7 linked regions of the Homo sapiens genome follow. The protein of the gene in region 1 purifies or fractionates together with the protein of each later gene. This does not show direct contact. Each region holds a gene or a part of one and is shown in the gene's direction. Other genes may lie near its edges. The genes, in order: SLC9A4, THEM6, DNAJB12, UGGT2, TAF1B, POM121C and TMEM131L.

Region 1 (3,982 bases):
TCTCATTTCAGTGACTGAATCTAATCTATTCTGGAGTCAAACTGAAGGAAAAAGAAAAAATATTCATATGTGAACTTTTAATTCTATTGCCTCACTATGAATTTGCATCTAGGTGTTAGCCCTTCTCAACCATTCCTTTCTCAATTTCCCAGTGATGTTAGCTGAGTGTGTGTGTGTGTGTGTGTGTGTGTGTGTGTGTGTGTGTGTGTGTGTTGGCTGGGGGGAAATCCCCTGCACTCACTAATATGAACTAAGAAAAAACAAAACACAAAGCATCTTGCAGTTTGATGTAAAAGAGATGTTGGGGTAGTATATGGATGATGTATTATTCTCATTTTTTACTGAGTATCAGTAATCATTGCAAAAGTGTTGTATCTTATCCTAAAAGTATAAGAAATGTAATTTAAAATAAAAACTAACATTTAAGTGCCAACTACATGCCAAATTCTTTACTTGCTTTATCTCATTTAATGTTCCTAGCTACTCAATGAGGCAGATATTTTCCTCTCTGTTTCAGATAAGGAATTTCTGAAAGGTAATTAACTTCACCAAGGTCACCTGGCAACAAGTAGAAGAGCGAGAAGTAGGCTCATAAAAATTATCTCAAAATTCTTTCATCAACATTCTATGATGCTGCTTCTTTTTAACAACAACAAATGTTTTTTAAATGGAAAATCTGGATGTGCCATGGAGTTTTACAAATCCAGGTATTTAGGTGTATTTATGGAACTTGTTCTTTGGCTTCCTGTTTTTTAAAAATTATAGTGTAAAGTTCATAGAGATCTGGAACTTCATTCCTTCTATGAATGACTGCTCATGGAGTCTGGTAACATGCAAAAGTTTCAGTGTTTGCTACCATCCTTGTTGTTACCACCTCCTTCTTATCCTCCTTCTTCCTCATGTATAGAGACCATATAAGACAGTTTGCTGGACAATTCTGGTTTGTGCCTATAGCTTTGCATAATTATCATTATTATTCATTCCCCAAAGTGTCCTGGTTTAGATAATTTCATGGTCACCTTAACGTTCATAACTGAAAGTGTCAAGGGTGTTGTATTGCAGGTGCCCACTAGGTGTCAGCAGTGTGACCTCCAGAGAACCCTCAGAGAAAGGATTTCATTACAAAAGTCAAATCAAAGCAAATAATTAAGTGTAGTTCCAGAGCTACCTGAAGCCGTGGTCATTCAAAACAAATGAGAGGACAGGGGGAGGAGAGAAGGAACAAGCGCAGATCAGGTAGCTCCTTCTTGGGATCTGATAGACAGGGAAGGTTTCCTTTCCTCATTAGAAGGACTCCAGTGATCTGTGGAATGAGCACTACAGTATCCTTTTAAATTTTCACCCACAAGACAAAGCCAGTATGCAGTGAAATGAGGAAATGCCTTTAAGTGAAGAGATTTTTATTTCTTTCATAAATTGCTCAAGCCATGATTGGATGGAGGTCCTCCAGGTAGCTCCATGGACTTTAACAAGTCTATTGAATAACTGCATTTGAGTTGGAAGCTGAGTTGCCTGAACACAAACGATTTAAACCAGATTAGAAAGTGTCTACATACAGAGCTCAATAACACACTCGGAATCTTCTTGGGAGGACCCACAGACTGTACCTATATTACTTTTGACCCAGGTGGATGCAGTCACTCTCTAGAAGCCTCCCCGACTTCAGATGTGTGGCACACATCCACACAGGGGTGTAGGTAGGAGAAGCCCACAGGAATGGCTCTGCAGATGTTCGTGACTTACAGTCCTTGGAATTGTTTGCTACTGCTAGTGGCTCTTGAGTGTTCTGAAGCATCTTCTGATTTGAATGAATCTGCAAATTCCACTGCTCAGTATGCATCTAACGCTTGGTTTGCTGCTGCCAGCTCAGAGCCAGAGGAAGGGATATCTGTTTTTGAACTGGATTATGACTATGTGCAAATTCCTTATGAGGTCACTCTCTGGATACTTCTAGCATCCCTTGCAAAAATAGGTAAGTCCTTAAACACCTGGTTTGGTGAGTTATCTTTTTACATAAGATAGTGAATGTGAAAATGCCTTATAGATAACGGGCTAAGAGGATTTTAACTGTTACTGCTATTACATTAAAAATTCTCTTCCCTTCAGTCAAGGGAAAGTCATAACTGCATTTTACTAAGCTATTTAATACTTTGAGATTGCTCTTTGAAATTTGAGAGCATACTTCTGGGTACTGGGCTGTGTTGGTTTCTTCTCATTTCAGGGTGACAACCATGTGACATTGTTGACATGCAAAACTCTCAAATTCTATGCTTTAAAAATATAGAGAATAAAGCACGTAGACCTGGGCATGATGCAAGGTGGAAATTTCAGGAAACACATAATGTTTCTTCTGTAAAATATTCTTGGCTGTGTAATTGTGGGCTTCATCAATCACCCCATTGTTTATTCTTTAAAAGTAGCGTGTGCTTCTTGCAAATTGACAGAAAGCAAAAAACAAGAAAACCATAGGCAACTTGTATTACTCAGTGATGGGATGTCGGGGCATATAAGATTATATCTGTCAGTAAAATATTAGTTTATACCTACCAAGTGGGGCCAGTGAGGCACCTCTAATTTCCTTTGTGAAATAAAGTGAATCCAAGTTAATAGATTAAATTCCAATCAAGGGATCTTTGTGTCAAAAACCAAAGAGGTGGCTATACTCTGTGACTGTTTAATCCCTAACTGCTCCTCCTTATCTCTTTAAAACCAGCTTATTCTAAAGTGGAAAATTAATATAATTATCTCAAATGCTAAGCACAATGCCTCCTTTGCCTCAGCTATAAACTTTATGCTATTTGAGTATGTAGATTGCCTTATTGAGATAGAATCAATGAAACATTTTAATTCTCATTTATTTATATGTGTATGTTTTCTCTAGGATGGGTGTGTAATGTGGGTTGAGCCTTGAGGTCTGGCAGTTACCTTCTGTGTGCTCTGGCTATTCACTTAGCTCCCTCCCTGTGGGTGTGGGGACACTGGTATAGGTGTCCCCTTTAGACTCTCCTTTATAGTTGCTATTCATTTTGAGCTAGTAAAGTGTGAATATTAAATAGGAATGTTAGTTTGAAGAAGTCTTGTGCAATTTGCTTAGTGAATAAGTTACACAAAGGATCTTACTATATTTTTAAGAGGTATACAAGTAAAAATGGCTTTCCAAATGGATAACATTCTCAGTTCAGAACAGTCTAACATCTTTTGTGAAATCATATAGACACTGATTGTGTTCAAGGTGATCTTACTTGGTACTTGAGTTTTCCTTTTAAAACAATATGCTAGAGATTCTGTGTTCCCTGCTCCCCATTCCACAACCTGGCTTCCTCTTCACAGAAATGGCTCAAGTCAATCTGAGTACCAGGAAACTCGTCCTGTCACTGACTAGCTAGTTGCTCTGTTTATCAGTAAACATCTAAACGCAGAAAGGCTGCATTTTGTCTTGGTTTTATATTTGTGTAAAACCTAGCTTGTTTTGTAGAGGCATTGTATGCACCCAGATTCATTCTGTCTAGGAGCGAAGAACACTGTGAAAATACGATTATTCATAGAACTGTTGGTTTAAATGTTCTTGATTTTCATGATGTAATTTAACATACTTTAGAAAAAAAGAGTAGGATATCAGAACACGCTTATTCGAGTACAATTTCATATTTACTAGTCTTCAAGAATTTAGATTATTTTTATATTCCATATGGACATGAGGAGTGAGGAGATAAAAAGGCCATATTTATTGAATATATACTATGTGCCAATTACTGGGCTGGTAGTTTTATGTATAAGGGCTTGTTTACTAGGGCCAAAATAATAATGATGATGATGATTTATAATTTCAGCACTTAAGAAATGCATATGAGTTTTTAAAGATTATGTTATAAAACATGAATCAGAATAAAATTAATAATCATTATTATGATTCATTCTTTTATTCCTCATTCCATCAAGGTACATTTTCTGAGAACCCATGAAATATGTGGAAATGACCATG
Region 2 (3,500 bases), on another chromosome or scaffold:
TTTAGAAAGTTTACTTTGCCAAGGATAAGGACTCACCAGTCCTGACAACATGTGCCCAAGGTGGTCGGGGCACAGCTTGCTTTTATACATCTCAGGGAGGCACAATACATCTGTCAGTACATGTAAGATTCACATTGATGCCATCTGGAAGGGGGGCTTTCAGGTCATGGTAGATGTAAAAGTTTTCTGATTGGCAGTTGGTTGAAAGAGCTATTATCAGTAGAAAGGCATGTCTGGGTTAAGATACTGGTTGTGGAGACCTAGGTTTTATTATGCAGATGAAGCCTCCAGGCTGCAGGCTTCAGAGGGAATAGATCATAAATGTTTCTTGTCGGACTTAAGGTCTGTGTTGTTAATGCTGGAGGGCATAACAGGCCTGTCCCACACCCTCTTCTATCATGGCCTGGGCTAGTCTTTCTGGTTAAATGTGGAGGGCCCTGGCCTATTGGAGGAAGTTCATTCAGATGGTTGGGGGTACCTTCCGATGTTATTTTTGGTTTACAGTCAGGAACCCCCTAAAAGGCCTAGATCTCTCTCTGTCCCCAGGTGCTGGACTCTATGTCTTTCATGCATCTAGAGTCCAGAGGCAAAGGCCACCAAGGCTGAGAGCCGGGCACGGAGGCCGAGGAGATGGGGAGCCAGGGTTGCTTTTCTGGGAAAGAGGGAGTGATAAAATCAGGCATGGGCTGGTTGGTGAGGTCCCTGTGGGAGGTGAAGGCTGGGACCCAGAACAGCAGAGACTCTGTCGATGATGTGGAAAGACCGCGGCTGCAGTTTGGGCAGGCTGAGCCAGGGTTGGGTCTTGCATGTTGAGAGGCTGGCCTGCGGTGATGTGGCCAAAGAGGAAGAGCTGGGCTGGGGTGAGTGTTGGTCACATGGTTGAAACTAGGTGGGGAGGGGAGTGGTCCAGGGGAGAGTCCAGGCCCAGCTCTGCTGGGACTTGCCATGGGGGTCACGACTCATCTGCAGGGAAGGTCTGGGCTTTATCTCTGAGCACCTCTGTGTGCTGCTCACCCTGAAGTGGGGGTGGGCCTGTGCCTGGCCTGTCCCCTCATCCTGGGAGCTCCCAATGCCCATCTGCAAGGCTGTGGACCCCTCAGGAGTGGCCTGGAGCCTGGCTCCCATTGCCACATGGTGGCTGTGTGTGTGGAGAGGGTTGATAGTGGAGTGGTCAGGCCCAGGCTGCCCTGGGGGATGAAGTGCCATCCTCTGGGTGCCCTGGAGAAAGAAGAGAACTCAGTGAGCCCTGTCTGGTACTTTCCTGGAGGAGGGCTCCCATGCTGGCCCTCCACCCCTCTGTCCCCTGTCACCCTGAGGCCTCTGGATTTCCTCTCTGCCCTTCCCAACCTGCCAACTTCACGGGTTTCTGGCTGGGTTCTGGGGATGGCCCCTAGGGGAGACGGGCCAGGCACAAGCGGGGCTGTGTCAAGGTGGGTATGCAGGGGTAGCACAAGTGTGCAGAGCCTGGGGAGGCATGGGCAAAGCATGGCAGGCGGCGGGGCAGGGGATCTTGGAAGGTCACGGGCTGGGGAGCAGTGTGGGCAGCGGCCCAGAGGTGGGAAGGCCGTAGCTTAGCTGGGTGTCCCCTTTCTGTCCTCTGCAGGTGGAGCCCCCTGAGCTGCCCGCTGATCTGCAGCACTGGATCTCCTACAACGAGGCCAGCAGCCAGCTGCTCCGCATGGAGAGTGGGCTCAGTGATGTCACCAAGGACCAGTGACCGCCACCTTCACACCGTCTGCCCTGGCCACCATCCTGGGCCTGGGGGCTGCCCACAGATGGGCAGTCTCAGCCATACTCTGTTCCAGCTGGAGTAGCCTCCTGACCAGCCTGGCCCACCCTGCTCCACCCACTGGGCCCCCCCAGTTATTGATACCCCTCTGTGCTGGGCTCCACGCTAGGCAGAAGGAGGAGTGGCATTGGCATCCTGACCCAGCTCTGCCCTCAAGGTGGGGATGGATGGGCAAAGGAGAGTCCTGCCTGGCCCTACGATGAGGCCACTCATGTGGGCCTAGGTAGGGGAGGATGGTGCCTGGAGCAGAGGGACCCACAAGTGCCTCCCGAGCCTAGATCCTGGCTCGGACCACTGCAAGGGCCGAGGCAGGGCCAGACCAGAGCATCCTGGGTACAGGCCTGGGCTCTCCAGGGCCTGGGCCTGATTCAGGTGCAGTGGGCACTCCTGAAGGGTCAGAGCGGCATCTGCCAGGCAGCCCCTCTGGCTTCCGCTGAGGTGGTTGCAGGCCTGGGGCAGAGCCTGGGTGGTCAGAGGCCGGGGCTAGAGGCAGATGGAAGGGAGGCATTTGCTGACAGAGGACGGGGCACCCGGGCTCCCCACTGCAGTCGGCCTTGCCTCCTCCTCCTCCTCTACCTCCAGTCAGGCTGGACGGGAGGGTAGCCTTGTGGCTGAGAGGGGTCAGACTAGGTGGCACAGGGGCTCCTGGAAAGACAGCAGGCTTCCTGCTGGGCGTTCCCTTGTTGGAGGGAATAGAGTGGGGGTGGGACTCTGCAGGGGTGTCCTTGTCCACTCGCACCCCTCGCCGCCCACCAGGGCCATGCTCTGTGACTTGGGCTGATCCCCACCCTTTCTGGGCCTACAGCACCACAGGCCGCTGTACCCCCTTAGAGCTGCCCCTCTCTGGCCTGGCCGGCAGGCGTCTTCTTAACTCCTCTGTCCTCTATATTCAGCATGTTCCTTGTCAGCTGCTGGGCCGGCCCTGCCTTGCGCTAGCAGAGCCTCTCCTGGCAGCTTCTCAGGTCTCCCTAATGGAGACACCAGGCTACTAGGACACTGGCTGGGGCCACCCCCTCCTGCCTAATGCCTCACCTTACAGCTGGGGAAACTGAGGCCTGGAATGGCCCAGAGTCACCAAGGCAAAGTTGGGGCTGGTCCCAGCCTGAGGCTCCAGCTGATGCCCTCAGCTCCCAGAGAGGGGGTGCCCCATCTAGCTGGGTGCAGGGGTCACTGCTTGTCAGCTCAGGGCCCTGTGCCCGCTTGCCTGTTCCCCTACATCTGTGCCTGCACATCCAGAACTGCCTCCTTGCCGCTGCCTCCAGGAAGCCCACCTTGAGCCAGAGTCAAGGGCTGCAGCACTGCCCGATAGAACACGCCCGCCCTCACTGCTGTTCTTGCCTTACAGCCACCATGGGAAAGCTGCAACCTTTCTGTTTTATTTAAAGAAAGCCCAACATTAAAGGGTTTTCATTGCAAGCGTGCTGGGGAGGGCCTTGTTTCTGAGCTACCACCACCACCATCCATGCAGGGGCGGAGGTGGGACCAGGGAAGCTGGGGCACATTCCCAAGATGGGTGTCTGGCATGGGGGGCTATCCAGGTTTGTTGGGCTCCCGTGAACTTAGGGATCAGGCTGGCAGGGCAGGGCTTGTCCTCATCCCATGGGGCATAGGACTGAGGCCAAGAAGGTGCTGTCCAAAGCCCCCTGGGGAGCCAGCCCTTCCTGCTCCGGCCCTCCTGGTTCCCAGCTCTCGAGGCTTGCAGCCCCATCTA
Region 3 (3,500 bases), on another chromosome or scaffold:
ATCCAGATGCCTGTTTTCCCAGCTGGTCAGCTTGTCAGAGGCTTTAGGATTTTACTACCCAGGGCGCTGGGGCCCAGGCCTGACTGAGGTTTCGTGCCTGGAATAAATGGACACAGGGACCTGCTGCCAGAGACTTGGGCCCTTCCTCATTTAATCTGCAGGAACCACAGGCTTGTTTTTGCTTGCTTTTGTTTTTTTGAGATGGAGTCTTGCTCTGTTGCCCAGGCTGGAGTGCAGTGGCACAATCTCAGTTCACTGCAACCTCTGCCTCCCGGGTTCAAGCGATTCTGTGCCTCAGCCTCCCGAGTAGCTGGGATTACAGGCGCCTGCCACCACGCCGGCTAATTTTTGTATTTTTAGTAGAGACGGGGTTTCACCATGCTGGCCAGGCTGGTCTCAAACTCCTGACCTCAGGCGATCTGCCCGCCTCAGCCTCCCAGAGTGCTGGGATTACAGGTGTGAGCCACCATGCCTGGTGGGCTTGGTTGTTTTTGTTTTTGTTTTTCTGAGACAGAGTCTCATTCTATTGCCCAGGCTGGAGTGCAATGGCATGATTTCGGCTCATTGCAACCTCCGCCTCCCAGATTCAAGCCATCCTGCTGCCTCAGCCTCCCTAGTAGCTGGGATTACAAGCGCCCACCACCATGTTCGGCTAATTTTTGTATTTTAGTAGAGACGGGGTTTCACCATGTTGGCCAGGCTGGTCTTGAACTCCTGACCTTGTGATTCGCCCGCCTCGGCCTCCCAAAGTGTTGGGATTACAGGCGTGAGCCACAGCGCCCAGCCGGGCTTGGTTTTCAATAGCCATGATGCTGCCGAGGGTGATAGTTAATGTCCTGTATAGACTCCAGACATTGAAGAGGACATTTGGCATGGCCAACCACTTGCATTAGAAAAATGTGAAAAATAGCAAGTTGTGAGCACAGCAGATACTTCTTTTGGTCTCCTACCATCTGTGTCCCCCTTGGGCAAACTCATTTCCCCCATTCCTCTTTACAGCTAAGCAAAGGCCTCCAGGAAGGCTTCCTGACTGATCCCACCTGAAACAGAGGGTCCTGCTAAGCGGGGTCCCCTTTGCAGGGTACTTTTCCCAGCTTGGCACTCAACATGCCAAGTCTGTTAAACTCACTACTTTGAGATCTTAAAAATCTGAAGGGTTGACTGGGCACAGTGGCTCATGCCTGTAATCCCAGCACTTTGGGAGGCCAAGGCAGGCGGATCACTTGAGGTCAGGAGTTCGAAACCAGCCTGGCCAACATGGTGAAACCTCATCTCTATTAAAAATACAATTAGCCGGCGTGGTGGTGTGCACCTGTAATTCCAGCTACTTAGGAGGCTGAGGCGGGAGAATCGCTTGAAACCGGGAGGCAGAGGTTGCAGTGAGCTGAGATCATGCCATTGCACTCCAGCCTGGGCAACAGAGTGAGACTCCGTCTCAAAAAAGAAAAAAAAAAAAAACCAATGGTAAAAATAGGGAGTAGTGCAGTGGACTGAATATTTTACTTATTCAAAATGTGGTGCAATGCAAACATATTTGCAGATTTGAATGAGTTCAGTAGAAAAAAATGGATTCATAAGTTGGATTCATAAAAGCAAAAAGCAGAGTAAAACCAAATACACTGAAAGAAATAGCAATTAAAGTAGTATTAAATGAACTCTAGCAAGGCACGGTGGCTCATGCCTGTAATCCCAGCACTTTGGGAACCCGAGGTGGGCAGATCACTTGAGGTCAGGAGTTCGAGACCAGCCTGGCCAACATGGTGAAACCCCATCTCTACTAAAAATACAAAAATTAGGCCGGGCACGGTGGCTCACACCTGTAATCCCAGCACTTCGGGAGGCCGAGATGGGTGGATTGCTTGAGGTCAGGAGTTCAAGACCAGTCTGGCCAACGTGTTGATATCCCATCTCTACTAAAATACAAAAATTAGCTGGGCATGGTGCTGGGCGCCTGTAATCCCAGCTACTAGGGAGGCTGAGGCGGGAGAATTGCTTGAACCCAGGAGGCGGAGGTTGCAGTGAGCTAAGATCATGCCACTGCACTCCAGCCTGGGCAACAGAGCAAGACTCCGTGTCAAAAAAAAAAAAATTAGCCAGGCGTGGTGGCACGTGCCTGTAGTACCAGCTACTCAGGAGGCTGAGGCATGAGAATCACTTGAACCTGGGAGGTAGAGGTTGTAGTGAGCTGAGATCGCACCACTGCACTCCAGCCTGGGCAACAGAGTGAGACTCTATCTCAAATAAACAAACAAATAAAAAAAAATAACTCTAAATAAAGTACTATAGGGTTTATTAATAAAACCAAGTGTGCTTTTGGAAGACTATCAGAATATCAGAATTCTGCCTAAATTTATTAAGAAAAGAGATATATGTATAAGTATACTATCTGAAAAATAAAGCAATTACTACAGATTTATCCATGAATTATGTAGAATTTTATGTCAATTTTTATTAACAAAATTAATTTTGTTCATGTAAAACGAAAAAGACCTCTATCCTGCCTACTTTTTTTTTTTTTTTTTTTTTGAGACAGATCCTTGCTCTGTCGCCCAGGCTGGAGTGCAGTGGCACAATCTTGCTAATCTCCACCTCCTGGGTTCAAGCAATTCTCATGCCTCAGCCTCTCAAGTCTCTCGAGTAGCTGGGATTACAGGCGCCCACCACTATCTCCAGCTAAATGTCTTTTGGGGTTTTTTTTTTTGTATTTTTAGTAGAGATGGAGTTTCACCATGTTGGCCGGGCTGGTCACAAACTCCTGATCTCAGGTGATCCGCCCGCCTCAGCCTCCCAAAGTGCTGGGATTACAGGCGTGAGCCACTGTGCCCGGATTTTTTTTTTTTTTTTTTTTTTGAGACAGGGTCTCACTCTGTCACCCAGGCTGGACTGCAGTGGCACCATCTTGGCTCACTGCAACCTCTGCCTCCCTAGTAGCTGGAATTACAGGCGCCCGCCACCACATCTGGCTAATTTTTTAATTTTTAGTACAGACGGGATTTCACCACATTGGCCAGGCTGGTCTCAAACTCCTGACCTCAGGTGATCTGCCTGCCTCAGCCTCCCAAAATGCTGGGATTACAGGTGTGAACCACCACGTCCGGCCTGTCCTGCCTACTCTTAAGGACTATGGCTTTCAAGAGAGCAGATGACTGTCCCCCCAGCACCCACAGGCCTAATCAGGGCAGGAGCTGGTGGCTTTGCTGGGAGGGGAAGTGAGTGGGAAGCAGCGGGCCGCTCGGCGAGGCACGCAGCCTGCTTGAGCAGGAGCTCTGAATGGTTTCCTTGCCTTGCACAGCCCTGATTGAGTCCCTCAACCAGAAACCACAGACTGCCGGTGACCAACCCCCACCCACAGACACAACCCATGCCACCCACAGGAAAGCAGGTGGGACCGATGCCCCCTCGGCCAACGGTGAAGCTGGAGGAGAGAGCACCAAAGGCTACACTGCAGAACAGGTTGCAGCTGTGAAAAGGTAGATGGGTGGGCAGGGGCTGGAGCCTGG
Region 4 (3,500 bases), on another chromosome or scaffold:
ATACCCTGCGTGGTGGAGAAAATCTGCTTGGTCAGAGGAGCTCCAAATTGTAGATGGTTTAAAAATATTTTAGCCTGGATGAGCCCCATCAGCAGCACTCACACACCTACCCTGTTACCACATAAATTCTTGCTGTGCCGTAGTTCCACACTTAAGCATTCTGTTCCTTCCCTCATTGACCTGTTTAAACTTTCAGTACACTAGATATGGCCATGTCAAGCTGTAATTCATTCTTTGTTCTGAAAACAACCTTTGGCAACTCACAAAAATTCAAAAATACCAGCCCATTCACCTAAAGACAATATAGTTATATTCCACATTACAAATTTAAAAAAAAACTCATAAAGCTTCAAATGATATTGTCAAATATTTTAATATTAGTTTGTAAATATTATAGAGTGTTTATAGCTTAACTATTTTGAAATACATTTCTATATTGATTGCTTATATTTACTATTTAGGCATACAATGTTTCCATATGTATGTTTAAGAAATGTCAATTACTTTTTTATTCCAAGTTTCACAGTAAGCTTGCATAAAGAAAACAAAAAGGAAAAAGATGTCCTAAACATTTTTTCAGTTGCTTCTGGTCATTTATATGAACGTTTTTTAAGGTAGGTATATTTTTTAACCTTATATTTTGAAAAAGAAATATTTACATGGTTCAAATTTCAAAAAAAAATAAAGGAATATACACTGGGAAAAAAAAAACTCCCACCTCTGTTTCCTTGATACTCAGTTCCTTTTCTCACAGGAAACCCATAATATTATTTTTATATCCTGCTAAGGAGATACATACACACACACACACGTAAATATATATGTGTATATTTATTTATTTATTTCAGTTGTTTAAGTCCTTTTACCCAAATAGTAAAGAACATACTACTTTACACCTTGCTTTTTTTTTTTACTTAAAATTATGAGGTAAGTATATATAAATATGAAATTTCATGAGTTTGGCTTGATTTGGAATATTGGTTTTCTTCAAGGCTAGCAAATAGACATTTTGGATAGGTAAGAATATATATATATAGATATACTCACAATATATATATTTACAGTACTTTATATATACAATATTTATATATATATAATTTACTATAGTAAATTATCCTTTTCCAGTGAAGAAAACCTTGTTTTATAAAAAGGAAGGGAATGAGGGGAGAAATGCATATTGCAAAGTACAAAAGGCTATTTTTAAACAGTTTATATAGAAAGGTCACAGAGAATAACTCAAAAATATTTGAATTGTAGCACTGATACGTTAAAATGGAACTTCAGATTCATTTGTATCCTTTCCATTTGGAGGTTTAGGTTAGCAAACCAAATGACCCATCCAGTGAATTTGTCAATATAGATAGATCATTCAGCTCTTCAGGGTTTGTAGACTTAATATTAATCACACAGTCATGGACAGCTGGGCCCAGGTGAAGCTACCATGATGTATATGTATTCATCCTTACACATTACATACTTGATAAACCATATTTTAGTTTATTTCTTCACATTTCATTGTGAAAACCTTCTAATTCATACCTTCAATTATTTAAAAGCCTTTAAAAGACCTATGTAACAAACCTGTATGTTCTGCACATGTATCCCAGAACTTAAAGTAAAATTTAAGAAATTAAAATTAAATTTTAAAAAACACTTCAAGGTTAAAAAATATATATGAGCTCCTGTTACTGTTAATGTATATTGGGTTTAATATTCTTTTATACAGAATTATGATGCTTTCTGTTTTGCGTAACACCAAAACACCAGTGAAATTCTGGTTGCTAAAAAATTATCTCTCACCGACATTTAAAGTAAGTACATAGCTTTTTTTGTAGAATGGTTAATGTTTGAATAGTAAATTATTTGTATCATTGTAAGTTTATATGATATTTCTCTTTTCAGAATAAGCTTTTTGAAAAAATGGTATTTAGTATTTTTATGTAGCTTAAGAAAAATTCTGTACAATTTTTATTTAGAGATGTTCAAAGGAGAGGACAGAAGACTGTATATTTTTAAGTAAAATCAAAATCAGAATGGCTAGTAGTTTTTCATGATAATGAGTAATTAAATACAATTTGGCAATGGAAAATATATACAGATTTTCAATTAAAAGAAATGGATTCTGTCATTTTTGCAAAGATAGGCAGAAACAGTAGTAGTATCAAGAAAATACAAAGACTATACCTATACCGTAGAAAATAGTTTTACAGTACTGAAACAAAAAAGCTCTTTCGTCTGTGTAGTGTATTGATTGCTGGGCACCATGATCTGAGGCATTTTATATTTAGAAGATTTCAGGTGATCAACAGCTATTACCCTTTACTCAGCCCTATACTCCTGCTACAAAGTATACTCTGTTTCTTCCTATTCTCCCTACAGCATAATCAAATTCCGTGAAATTTAGTGTCTCCGCAGCAATTTGGTGTCTCATTCAACAGCATTTCAAATGAGTTTGTTTTTTCTAGACCAAAAGCAGTGGGAAAACAGAAGTAAAACTAGCCAAGCATGCTTTTATTCCTTAATATTTCTAGGCATGATGCCAAGTGTTTAACTGACGTTATTCAATTGTTTTTCATAACAATCCCACATGATAAGAAAACCAAGATTCAAAAGTTACGTAACTAGCTTGCACAGTTGAGAGGTACCTGAGACCACTTTTAGATTCAATAACTTACTATAAGGATTTATATAACTCCAAAAAACAGCTGTGCTCACAGTTACAGTTTTTATAGCAAAAGGACACAAATAAAATCAGCAAAAGGAAGAGATGCTTAGGGTAGGGTCCGGGGAGACCAGACACAAAGTTAACAGTTGTCCTCTCCCAGTAGAATCCCGTTACAGTGGATAGCACTTATTTCTTCCAGCAACAGTGTGTGAGGGTACTCGTGGAGTATTGCCAACCAGGGAAGCTCATTCAAACTTTGTGGTACAGAGTTTTTATTGAGGGTCAGCTGTGTGGACTTGGCTAACGGCCTGCATGACTAACCTTAACCTCTAACCCCTTCAGATGTTGAACTGATGCTTTGTGGCCCAAGGTCCTCACTACAAATAACATCATTAGCATACAATATCTAGTGTGGTCCGAGATCTGCAGGTAAACGTAGACATTCTTATTAGTCAGGAAATTCCAAGGGTAGAGGATATTTCCTGGGAGATAGGGTGAAGGGCCAGGGTAGGGGATATTTCCTGGGAGATAGGGTGAAGGGCCATACTTTTCTTTGAGCAAGAATCATCCTTTATAGCATAGGCCTGATATGAAACAGCTAATTAGAAACACAGCTGAGATTTGAACCCAGGCATTCAGACCTCAGGTGCTTAACCTTATGTAACAGCCCATTTGCCCTCCACCACCAACAGTGTCTCCTCCTATGCTCATTTGACAGTAGGAAAAAAAAAAAAAAACAGAAAAAGAACCTATAAATATAGATAAGAAGTTATACTATTTTTCTACTAATTTTTTAACATGCTTTCCTAGTAGTCAGACACTGAATAAGGGAGTA
Region 5 (3,500 bases), about 93 Mb from region 1:
CTTAAGAAAGGCAAATTTGGGACATTAAAAGTAACTGTGTAGACTTCTGCTTCTGGCTAAGATGGACTAACAGAGACCAGACTTACCTTTGTCCCCTAAACAATGAAAAACCTGGACAAAATATATTAAATGAGTAAAAGGAAAAACATTTTCCCTTGACAAAACTGGTGAATTGAGCTTGCAGGTGTGTCACACAAGTGCTTTTCCTTGAGGCAGTGTTCTTGAGTCTGCAGCTGGAATGCTTATCTCTGCTTCCTGTTTAGTCATACAGAATATTAAAAAGATATGTGCTCACTTGATGAAATTGTTGGGGTGATGGAGATATTTATTATCTTGATTATAGTGGTGGTTTCATGGAGATATATTTTGTGTGTGTGTCTGTGTGTGTCAGATTGTGCACCTGACAGATGTGCAGTTTGGTCCTCACCCTCATTGTGTAGTAAGGAGCTAGCAGTTTTACTCACTGTTGCTTTTGTACTATAGTGCAGGTGTAAACCCAGTGAAGAAAGATTATGTCTAATGGAGTATTTGCCATTAGTAGATGAAGTCAGCATACTATTTTTATAGGAATTGAACTACATTAACTAATTGCTTTTCTATTTTTGATTTTGATACTGTTTCCGTTTGATTCTGTTTGATCAAATCTGCTGCAGTCATTTTTTAGTTTGAAAGATCCTAATACTTCTCCCTAGCTCCACATTTGGAAGACTGTCAACTCCTGTGGAGTAATTTGTCAAGAATGTAGAGTTCATGAAGGTGGACAACATCTTTATAAAGACCAAGAACCTAGCTCAGTGCCTTCCTTTCAGACGACAGGCTTAAAGGAAAAAAAAGTTACGTGTTGCACAACTTCAGTAGTTATTCTTGGCTTTATGGCGGTCCAGGCATGTTCTTCACATGGACTGTGAGAATATAATGTGGTAGGGGCTCCCTGGAGCTGAGCAGTGTGGCGATGGTGATGTTGAAATACAGTGGGTGGGGAATGGCAGGTGAGACAGTTACAGCTGTGAAGAATGGAAGTCATGGTGCAACTTGCCCTATTTTTCTGCCCCTTTTATTGCCCCCTCTTCCTTGGCATGTAACTGTCAAGCTCCAGACACGCTCTGCAATCTGGGAAAGGCCTTCCAGATTGATAAAGGAACCAAAATGTTATCCTAGTATATTTTATCCAGGAAAAAAAAATGTAAGGTCATAAATCTGTTCAATTTAGACAATAGATATTTTTGCAAGAGTTTCACGGATATTTAAAAAGGTGTAGGCTAGACTTGTGTGAATGTAAGAGATTTTTATGATCATAAGAGCAATGCATGTTTACTATAGAAAATTTGGAAATTGTGAAGATGAAAGCTAAAATCACCAGTAATCTCTACATTTGTCTCTTTTTTCCTGTGTGTGAAATGGAGAAAGGGATGTGTGAGTGCTGTTCAATCTTCTGCCGTAACAACTTGGAAAAATACTTTTATCTAAACATTTGCAGACATTTTTTATAGACTGTAAATATTCCATAATGGCCATTTGGTAATTTAATTAATTATAGCTCTAGTTTTGGATGTTTCATTTTTTCAGGTTTTTTGCTCTTTCACGTTTTGTCTAGTACAGATTTTAAGTCTTTTTTTCCTGGCTACCCTTTGCAAGTTTTACTGTCTTTGCTAGATAATGGCTTTTGTATTTATTTTGACGTGTCTTATGTTTTCAGTGTGGCCAACCCAGTATACCAAAATTGCTTTGAATATGGTTTCTGTGATTAGAGAGACTACGTTCCAAAAATCCTGTTGGTAGAGACATTTCTTTTATTCTTATGGAGGGTTAAAGATAAATTTCATTCCAAATCTCTAAATTTAGAAAAACAGTAATGTCCTCTGTTGGTTAAAAATCCTCACCTTTCTTCTGGCATTAAGACTCAATAATGGGGGCTGGGCACGGTGGCTCATGCCTGTAATCCCAGCACTTTGGGAGACCGAGGTGGGCAGATCACCTGAGGTTGGGAGTTTGAGACCAGCCTGACCAACGTGGAGAAACCTCGTCTCTACTAAAAATACAAAATTAGCCAGGCGTGATGGCGCATGCCTTTAATCCCAGCTGCTCAGGAGGCTGAGGCTGGAGAATTGCTTGAACCTGGGAGGCAAAGGTTGAAGTGAGCAGAGATCGCACCATTGCACTCCAGCCTGGGCGACGAGAGCGAAACTCCCTCTCAAAAAAAAAAAGAAAAAGACTCAATAATGGGAACATTTATTCTACTTTATGGAATAAAGTGTGGCCCCATTTAAAAAAAAAGACTCAACACTTTATTTTTAGTTGTGGGAGAGCCAGAATCTTTGATATTTGCCCTTGAGAGCAGTTAAGATTGAAGACTCTGATATGAATTATACTAACCATTTTAGTCATTCTAAAGTTCTCTAAGTTTGATTAAAAATAAAATGTAATACGTACTTTTATAATTTCAGAAATGAAAGCAGTTTTAGAGTATTATTCAAAGACATGGAAAAGTAGGCCAAAACTAATCTGTCTGTAGTTTAGGCATTACCAGTTACAAAAAATACATAAAACTGTTTTCATACCAAAGTGTATTTTGTGTGGAGAAAAAAGTGAGTAGATGTAACTTTTAGTTTGGCTTGGTTTGTAAAAGTTAAAAAGTGATTTAAAATAAAAGTTATTCATTTAACAAACACTTTATGGTTACTGTATTCCAGGCACTGTTTTAGTTACTGAGAAATTTTGAATGAAAAAACAACATCAACATTAACTAGAATGTTAAATGTTTATAATTTTCCCAAGATTTTACCATCCTTGGTCCTGGCACTCACAATTTGGTTTATTATACTTTCCAGAAAATACCTGGAAAAATGCTTAGGGGGATGTAAAACGATCTTTTTTAATGGTCTTTTTCTCTTTCCTGCAGAGATATCAGGAAGTTACAAACACTGATCTTATTCCTAATACCCAAATAAAAGCCCTCAACCGGGGGCTTAAAAAAAAAAACAATACTGGTAAGTTCTTTCTTCATATGTACTTAACATTCTTTATTCACATCTTTCACCTTCATGATGTCAGGACATGGAATGGAATTTTAAGTAGGTTCTAGAGAAAATGCCAGATTTTATCTACTGGCATACGTTCTTCTATCCTATGTCTGTATTCATTGTGGGTGAATATTATTTCTGGTGCTTTTATAGAAAAAATGCTTATTTTCTGAAATAATTCAACCGTGGAATTGTTAGGTTAGGTGAGTTAAATATGATATTCAACTTCTAGAAATCCATTTCTTGTGTTGAATTTTGAACACACCTTTTTAAAATTGGGAAAATTATTTTCCCTTAAAATGACCTCAACATGAGTGTGCTTTGAAAGGCAAAGTATTTCATTAATCCAGTGAGTACATATAATTAACCATTGTTGAGAAGGATCTTAGGTAAAGTCTAACTGATGGTTTTTATTTTTGTGACTAGGTAGCTAGGACCAAATCCCCAAGTTTGAAACCAGGCTGATGATAATGGGGACTC
Region 6 (3,500 bases), on another chromosome or scaffold:
AAAAGCATTATTCTCTTCCCTTCATGTTATTAAGAAAGATGTCATGACCGTGGATGAAATCGTAAAAGAATGTTGCCTTCAATAAAGCATCTAACTGTCTTCTCTTTTATTAGGCCTGGGTCTCTGAAGAGAGGCCTCAATTCTCAGAGCTCAGATGACCACTTGAATAAGAGATCCCGAAGCTCTTCCATGAGCTCCTTGACAGGCGCTTACACAAGTGGCATCCCTAGCTCCAGCCGCAATGCCATTACCAGTTCCTACAGCTCCACTCGAGGCATCTCACAGGTACAAGTACAGCTCTTGTAATGTGGGGGGCATGAATTCCCAGCGTTCATTCATTGATTAGGGCCAGACATGGTAGCTTAGCCATGTAATCCCAGCACTTTGGAAGGCCAAAGCGGGAGGATTGCTTGAGCCCAGGAGTTCAAAACCAGCCTGGGCAATATAGTGAGACCTTGTCTGTACAAAAGAATCTTTAAAGAAATTTTTTTAAATAAAGTAATTGGTTAGCAAAAGTTTACTAATCACCTTCTATCTGTTGGACATTAGGATTGTCTCTAACTAATAGAAAATACAGATCATTGAGTGATCAATATAGGCCAGCAGAACGGAGTAGAAAGCCCGGAATGTAAAGCAGTGCATGTGTGCGAGCTGATTCGAGACAGAGCTGTGATGTAGATAAACGGACAGAGGGTGATTCGAAAGGTAGACTGAGTCCAGCTTGTATTGGGTCATAAAAGAGATTTATAGGCATTTAGAATTGAGCGCAGGGTTTTTAAACAAGTGGTCATGATTTTTTGGAAAGGGGATTATTGCATAGTATAAGGAACAGAGCAGGCTTTGCTGCTGGACAGACTTAGATTCAAATCTTGGCTCTGAGGCTGGGCGGGATGGCTCATGCCTGTAATCCCATCACTTTGGGAGATCAAGGTGGGAGAACCTCTTGAGCCCAGGAGTTCAAGACTAGCCTGTGCAACAGAGCGAGACTGTGTCTCAAAGAAAAGGAAAAAAATGCTTGGCTCTGACATCTAGTAGCTATAAGGTCTTGGGCAGACAATCACATAACATCTCTTTTTCTTATCTCTGAAGTGCTGTTGCAATGATTGAGGGTAATATTTAAAAAGCACCTATTACAGTGGCTGTCAGTAAGTGGGTATCCAGTATACAGCAGCCAGACAAAAAGATGTAAAGCATGTAAGGAGAAACGTTTTTGAGACAAGGAAAATTTTGAGATGAGTTCATCAGCCCAGAAGGCTCTGAGTCATATAAATGAACATTAATAACCATAATACCATTACCCCTCTTAAATTATTAACCTTAATATTATTTAATATCTAGTTATTATTTTTGATAAGCAAACTTTTCCAGCTTTGGACTATGGGAGCCAAACTGGCTCCTGTATCCTTTATTTTGATCCCAGCAGTCTTCGACAGATAGCTTCATTGCTTTTTGCCCACCTTCCCAAAGTCCATTTTTAGCCTATACTGAAGTTGGTTGTTTCTTCAAAAAGCTTTGGTTTCTTCCAGTTAGAACTGTAGAGACTACAGTCTAAGTTTTAGGAGAGATAAGATAGACAGATCCTCTAGAAAGAGGAATGTAAAGAATTAATTCATAATATTCCAAATTCAAATTTATGGTGGCAGGATTTTTTATGTAATCTATTTGATTTTATATTTTTATGTATTACACCAAAAATGTTGGTTTATAATTACTTTGATCCTAGTACATGCAATTTCTTTTTTTTTTTTTGAGACGGAGTCTTACTCTGTTCCCCACGCTGGAGCGCAGTGGTGCGACCTTGGCTCACTGCAATCTCTGCTTCCTGAATTCAAGCGATTCTCCTGCCTCAGCCTCCCAAGTAGCTGGGATTACAGGCTCTGGCCACCACGCCCAGCTAATTTTTGTATTTTTAGTTTGACACAAGGTTTCAACATGTTGGCCAGGCTGGCCTGGAACTCATGACCTCAGGTGATCCACCCACCTTGGCCTCCCAAAGTGCTGGGATTACAGGTGTGAGCCACCATGCCTGGCCATGCAATTTCAAAATAGCAATATCAGTGTCATTATTAACACTGTCATTATTAAGACTGCTGAAGTCAGTTTAAGAATTGTGATTCATTTGGTCTTTATATCCCTCTGTGAATCCTAGGGACATGTAATCAATATATCATGTTTTAAAGTAATGTTAATTGTCCTTTGGGTACACCAACTTTATATACAGTGAGGTTCGTTTGTTCAGTATGTTTGAAAGTTACAGGGATTTCTATGTTTTCCTTTTTGAAATAGTTCTATTTTAAATTACATAAAATACTTGTTGTTTGAAAAAAATACGCTAAAACAAGATACACTCAAAAATTCAATTTCCATCCCTTTCCACTCTACATTTTTCCTTCCTCTCCATTTTTATTATTTTTTGATTATCCTTTGTTGTTCTTTTTTAAACGGTATGCGTATCAGTGTATCTGAAAACTGCCACCTTCTAACATTTAAGGTAGTAGACAGTATATATAGATTTGAACCTTGCTTTTTCACATAATAGACAGTTGACGTCATTCCATAGCAGTACACAGAAACTCATCTTTGGTCTTACAACTGCATAGGTACTCTAGTCCTCTATTGACAAACGTTGGGTTGTTTCAGTCTTCTGCTATCACAAATAATGCTGCAAAGAATACATTTGTTCATATGTCCTTTCACCCTTGGCAGTTTTGCCTCTGGAAAAATTTCTAGAAGTCAGATTCCGGTCAAGGGTTAAATGCGCATGTGATTTTGCTGGGTATTGTTAAATCCCCCTACAGGGCATGTACCACTCAGCATTCCCCTCAGTATTGAATGAAAGGGACCATTTCTCCCTGGCCTCACCAGCAGATTTGGTTATTGTAGCTCTGGGCTTTTACCAATTTGACAGGTAAAAAATAGTATCTAGGATGGGCATGGAGGCTCACGCCTGTAATCCCAGCACTTTGAGAGTCCGAGGCAGGCAGATCACCTGAGTTCGAGACCATCCTGGCCAACATGGTGAAATCCTGTCTCTACTAAAAATATAAAAATTAGCTGGGCATGGTGGTGCACGCCTGTAATCCCAGCTACTCGGGACGCTGAGGCAGGAGAATCTCAGGAACCCAGGAGGCACAGGCTGCAGTGAGCAGAGATAGCGCCACTGCACTCCAGCCTGGGCAACATAGTGAGACTCTGTCTCAAAAAAAAAAAAAAAAAAGCTAGCTGAGCGCCACCGTGGCTCACTCTTGTAATCCCAGCACTTTGGGAAGCCAAGGCAGGTGGATCACCTGCGATCAGGAGTTTGAGACCAGCCTGACCAACATGGCAAAACCCCATCTCTACTAAAAATACAAAAAATTTAACCAGGTGTGGTGGCGTGTGCCTATAATCCCAGCTACTTAGGAGGCTGAGGCAGGAGAACTGCTCGACCCTGGAAGGCGGAGGTCAAGTGAGCCGACCTCATGCCACTGCCCTCCAGCCTGGACAACAGAGTGAGACTC
Region 7 (4,232 bases), on another chromosome or scaffold:
GTATTCAAGTTGGAAAATGCAAAGTGTCCCTTTTTTTTTTTCACATCAACAACTTACGTTTATGCTAATCTACTTAAATGTTAAGTCTGGCCAAGCAATTAGACTATTTAACCTTGTTTGGAGTTAAATGCAGACAGTGTGTGAGACTGTGTTCACAGTACTGTATTACGTCTTTAGGAAAGAGGATCTAGATTTCATTTTGTCCTTCTCAGGATTGTGTCTGCTATGCAAGCACTGGTTTTCTATAGTCTGGCTTGTAAGGCACAAGGAGCAATTAAACAGAGGATTAAGGTAAACAGGTGTGTCCCATCACTTCCCCTCTTCATACTATATTGTTCATATTCTCTGAATTTCATACAAGCTACAGTGGAAGCAGTAAGTTAACTTTAAAAAATCATAAGATTGCCCATACTTCTAGGTTATGCAAATTGATTTCTGAATAAGCCCTTGTTTGCGACATCGCTGGTAAAGGCAGGATGTTAACTTAAAGAGATGCCAGATTTTGGACTTGTTAGTTATAGGCATCAAAACCTGGAACTAGGAAATGTATTTCCACGTATTACTTCCATTATCCTACTAATGTTAGAAACAGGCAACTAACCACATCCTCGACCCCAACCATATTTCAGGAGAGGCTGGCTGAATTTTGCAATATGATTCCAAAAGGGAGTATTTGCAGGGTCTTTGAAGCTATAAATCCCCTAGGAAGAGTCTTCCCCACCTGTCAGGACCTGGACAGTGTCCACAGAGGGTGCCGGGCGCACTACCGCCACGCGGCGCTGAGGTCTGCCTCTCGGGTTTTGGGAGAGCTCTTTTTATTCTAAATTACAGACTTTGCAGCCACCGGATATCCTCGCTGCATAACTGGCAGTGGCCATGTGGCTGCACTCGCGTTTCCTGACAACCACTGCATTATTTCCACTAATATCCTGTGTCCAAGGCCTCTCGCTTGGCGACTCCTCGTTCCCACCTCCACCGCCACCTCTTCCCTCGAGGGTAATCTCTCGACCGTGGCCCAAGCGCCTCGACAAAGCGGCAACCACCCAAAAGTTCATGAAAATGCACTTGGCAAAAGTGGGCCGCTAGTCCCCGCGGACAGCTCTAAGCGACCCCGTCCCAGCCGAGGAAAGCGCCCGGGCCCCGCAGAGTGCGCGCTGCGGGGCGGGCCCGCGGCCATGTGCTCCGCGCCGGGGCGGGGCACCCGCGGGTTCGCATTGTCCACTTTCCCCCGCACCCCGCCGCGTTCCGTCCCTCCCTATCTGCGGCGCACACGCGCTCAGAGCAAGCGGCGCGCCCGGGTCTGGAGCTGCAGCAGCTGCGGCAGCGGCGGGGGTGGTGCGGCGCGGGGCGGGGCGGGGCGGGGCGGGGCGGGGCGGGGCGGCACGGGGGCGGGCCCGGGGCGAGGCAGCTGGGGCGCCAGCGAGCTAGCGGCGAGCGCGGCGAGCAACGGAGAGGAGCGCGAGCAGCAGCATGGCGGGGCTCCGACGCCCGCAGCCCGGCTGCTACTGCCGCACCGCGGCGGCCGTGAACCTCCTGCTGGGCGTCTTCCAGGTCCTGCTGCCCTGCTGTCGCCCGGGAGGGGCTCAGGGACAAGGTCAGCCTTGCGCCGCTGGGCTCGCTCTGCCTCTCCACCCCGCCCCCGCTCTTTCTTTTAGGGAACTGCTGAAATCTATAAGAGGGCGAGGGGAGGAAAGGGAAAGGGGCAGGAGGAGGAAGGAAAGCTGTTGCGATTCTCCGCTGATAACATTTTCTGACCACAGCGTCCCGTCCCGCGCCTCTCTGCCCCGTACAGCTGGAGAGCGGGGCAGTCGCGGGGCTTGGGGACCGCTAGCCGCTCGCGCCCTGGAGCCTTTGTGCGCGGGCCCCTGCGCCCCGGGCGCAGCCCCCGCTTTGTGTGGCGCGCGCGGGTGCCCCGCAGCGGCCCGGCTTCCTGCAGCTTTGTTCCCCCGAGCCTGGCCGCCCAGGGTCCACACTCCAGATGCTCGGGCTGCGGAGCCCGGAGTGCCTCGTGGGGTGTCTTCACTCCCACTTCGTCCCCCCACCCCCAGCACGAGCACCCCGAGCCTGCCTGCACGCTGTCGCCTTCGCGTCCGAGGGGCCGCCGGCTCACACCCCACCCATTGTATTTTTATCCTTGGCTCGCCCCTGGGATGGCCTCTGTTCCCAGGAGGAAAAAGAGACGTGTTTTGGTGAGGCGGGGGGCACGGAGGGACGGTAGGGGAAACAGGAAGCGTTTCTTTAGCGTGCATTAAAAACGTGGTGTATTTTTTGGTGTTCCTGCAGCGATTGAGCCGTTGCCGAACGTGGTGGAGCTGTGGCAGGCAGAAGAAGGGGAACTCCTGCTGCCCACTCAGGTGAGGACGACCAGGTGACAGGGCGGCTGTGGGTGTACGAGGGAGGAGAGGCGGGGAGGCCCCCGGTCCTCCCCACCCCCTGTCCAAGCGGCACAGGCGTTCGGGCCACTTTGCAAGGCAAATAAACGTTAGGGGCCGAGCCTGAACACCTGGCAACGGTGGCCTTCCCGGCTCCTCCCACGCCATGTGACAGGGCCTGAGGCAGGCCGGCCCCAAGTTCAGAAGGTGGGAACCCAGGCCACCTCAGCAGGGAAGCGGCCAGCGGTCTGTTCGGCCGTGGGTGTCCTGGGTGCACACTGTTCCCTAAGTGAGCTGGTGCTGTGTGGATGGCAAGTGGCTAAGAGGTTGAGGACAACAGGAGTATTGATTTCATAAATGTTAGAGTGGTATTTGCCATTAGCGTTAAGTAGCTTTGGGATGGAGATGTGACTCTCAAGGATTGTCATCTTGGATTTTCTCCAAGTGCCCTTAATTCCTGTTAAAATACACCCACTTAAGAACTTGAATTTCTGGTTTTTTTCTCTGTATGATGATATGATGATTGCGTGTAGAAAAATAATTACTGACGTTTTATTGGGAATCTGTAGCATCATAGAGGGTTTATTGCTGCAACAGATACAGTACTGCAAAGCTTTTAACTTTTACAAGAAATTCCCATTGACTGTGAAGTGTGCACATTTAAATATAATGTTGTTGACTGCCTTTCACCAGTAACGGTAGTGATCCAAAATGCATTTTTTGGGTGGGAGTGGCTTGAATTATAAGGAAATATTTAGCTTGTGTGCAGTACTTTTTAAGATGTTCATTACTTCCCACGGTGGTGGCAGCACTTAATTCTGTGTTGTGTCTTGCGGCTGTTTAGAAAAACAGGATGTCTAGCTATAACTTTACCGGAGAGGCTGTCCAGTTTTACATTTCAGTTTTCTCCCTCCTATGTGAAACATTCAGAGTGCTGGTTTTGAGATATTTAGAATATTCATTTTGATCAGGGCTAATGAATAACAGCTTCAAGGCAGAGAGGTGATTTTAGAGGAGAATTTTCCTGGACCCTCCTTGAAGGCCAGCAGCCTGAATGAGACAGGTCTTTTGAGAAAGGGCCCCATCAGGATGAGGAGCAGATAGTTTTTCCTTCTCCTAAAAATTTATTCCCAAATGGATTTTTTCCCCGATTTTAAATAATATACATGTGTTTTTGAAGGTTTGGAAGATACAGAAATATAAAAAGAACAAAATAGAAATCCGTCGTATTCCTACTGCAAGAACGACATTTAACGCGATGTATTTATTTTAAAAAAATTATGTTTTTGTATATCAGAGTTGTTCAACAGTGGCACTGGTGACATTTTGGGCTACAGAGTTCTTTGTTGTGGGGGCTGTCCTGTGCACTGTGAGATGTTGAGCAGTTAGCATCCCTTGCCTCTACCCACTAGATGCCAGTGGCACTCACTGCTGCTTCCCCCTCTCCCCCACCCCCTCCTGATTTTGACAACTAAAAATGTTTCCAGACATTGCTAGATGTCCCTGGGGAGCAAAACTGCCCTGGTTGAGAAGCACTGGTGTATATCTATGTATATGTATTTGCATTTTTGCTCAATTATAGTTTCTATCTCTTACTGGCTAGTGTTGGAAGCCAACCCAGACTAAAAGGAAAGTAAATTATAGGTGATTGAGTCTAGTAGTATATACTCTCATTTGTTAGAGCGTTAGTTGAAGATTTAGTAGGTGTGCTCAGAGATGGAAATGTCAAGGCCTAAATGATTATTTGATTTATGGGCTCAAAAGTTATTTTATACAATTCTTAATTTCTGGTTTATTTGTATAATACAATTTGTTTTGATAATAGATGTCAGAATTCAGAAGCTGTCTGGGATATTCAGT

Evidence for each region.
Region 2: the proteins of SLC9A4 (region 1) and THEM6 purify together in Homo sapiens (affinity purification with mass spectrometry; one large-scale study listed by BioGRID and IntAct). This does not show direct contact.
Region 3: the proteins of SLC9A4 (region 1) and DNAJB12 purify together in Homo sapiens (affinity purification with mass spectrometry; one large-scale study listed by BioGRID and IntAct). This does not show direct contact.
Region 4: the proteins of SLC9A4 (region 1) and UGGT2 purify together in Homo sapiens (affinity purification with mass spectrometry; one large-scale study listed by BioGRID and IntAct). This does not show direct contact.
Region 5: the proteins of SLC9A4 (region 1) and TAF1B purify together in Homo sapiens (affinity purification with mass spectrometry; one large-scale study listed by BioGRID and IntAct). This does not show direct contact.
Region 6: the proteins of SLC9A4 (region 1) and POM121C purify together in Homo sapiens (affinity purification with mass spectrometry; one large-scale study listed by BioGRID and IntAct). This does not show direct contact.
Region 7: the proteins of SLC9A4 (region 1) and TMEM131L purify together in Homo sapiens (affinity purification with mass spectrometry; one large-scale study listed by BioGRID and IntAct). This does not show direct contact.

Annotation. Positions count from the first base shown.
Region 1 is NC_000002.12:102,472,044-102,476,025, forward strand, and holds the start of SLC9A4 (sodium/hydrogen exchanger 4 precursor), read left to right. Parts: upstream 1-1,182; 5' UTR 1,183-1,716; coding exon 1,717-1,972; intron 1,973-3,982. UniProt on the Homo sapiens protein: Electroneutral antiporter that exchanges sodium for protons or ammonium ions at the basolateral membrane of epithelia to regulate cell volume and intracellular pH upon hypertonic conditions.
Region 2 is NC_000008.11:142,733,723-142,737,222, forward strand, and holds the end of THEM6 (protein THEM6), read left to right. Parts: intron 1-1,603; coding exon 1,604-1,717; 3' UTR 1,718-3,205; downstream 3,206-3,500.
Region 3 is NC_000010.11:72,344,920-72,348,419, reverse strand, and holds part of DNAJB12 (dnaJ homolog subfamily B member 12), read left to right. Parts: intron 1-3,292; coding exon 3,293-3,470; intron 3,471-3,500. UniProt on the Homo sapiens protein: Acts as a co-chaperone with HSPA8/Hsc70; required to promote protein folding and trafficking, prevent aggregation of client proteins, and promote unfolded proteins to endoplasmic reticulum-associated degradation (ERAD) pathway.
Region 4 is NC_000013.11:95,857,902-95,861,401, reverse strand, and holds part of UGGT2 (UDP-glucose:glycoprotein glucosyltransferase 2 precursor), read left to right. Parts: intron 1-518; coding exon 519-614; intron 615-1,726; coding exon 1,727-1,811; intron 1,812-3,500. UniProt on the Homo sapiens protein: Recognizes glycoproteins with minor folding defects. Reglucosylates single N-glycans near the misfolded part of the protein, thus providing quality control for protein folding in the endoplasmic reticulum.
Region 5 is NC_000002.12:9,846,474-9,849,973, forward strand, and holds part of TAF1B (TATA box-binding protein-associated factor RNA polymerase I subunit B), read left to right. Parts: intron 1-2,899; coding exon 2,900-2,987; intron 2,988-3,500. UniProt on the Homo sapiens protein: Component of RNA polymerase I core factor complex that acts as a GTF2B/TFIIB-like factor and plays a key role in multiple steps during transcription initiation such as pre-initiation complex (PIC) assembly and postpolymerase recruitment events in polymerase I (Pol I) transcription.
Region 6 is NC_000007.14:75,434,300-75,437,799, reverse strand, and holds part of POM121C (nuclear envelope pore membrane protein POM 121C), read left to right. Parts: intron 1-113; coding exon 114-285; intron 286-3,500. UniProt on the Homo sapiens protein: Essential component of the nuclear pore complex (NPC). The repeat-containing domain may be involved in anchoring components of the pore complex to the pore membrane. When overexpressed in cells induces the formation of cytoplasmic annulate lamellae (AL).
Region 7 is NC_000004.12:153,464,928-153,469,159, forward strand, and holds the start of TMEM131L (transmembrane protein 131-like isoform 1 precursor), read left to right. Parts: upstream 1-1,432; 5' UTR 1,433-1,470; coding exon 1,471-1,594; exon of another isoform or gene 1,595-1,978; coding exon of another isoform or gene 1,979-2,189; intron 2,190-2,283; coding exon 2,284-2,354; intron 2,355-4,232.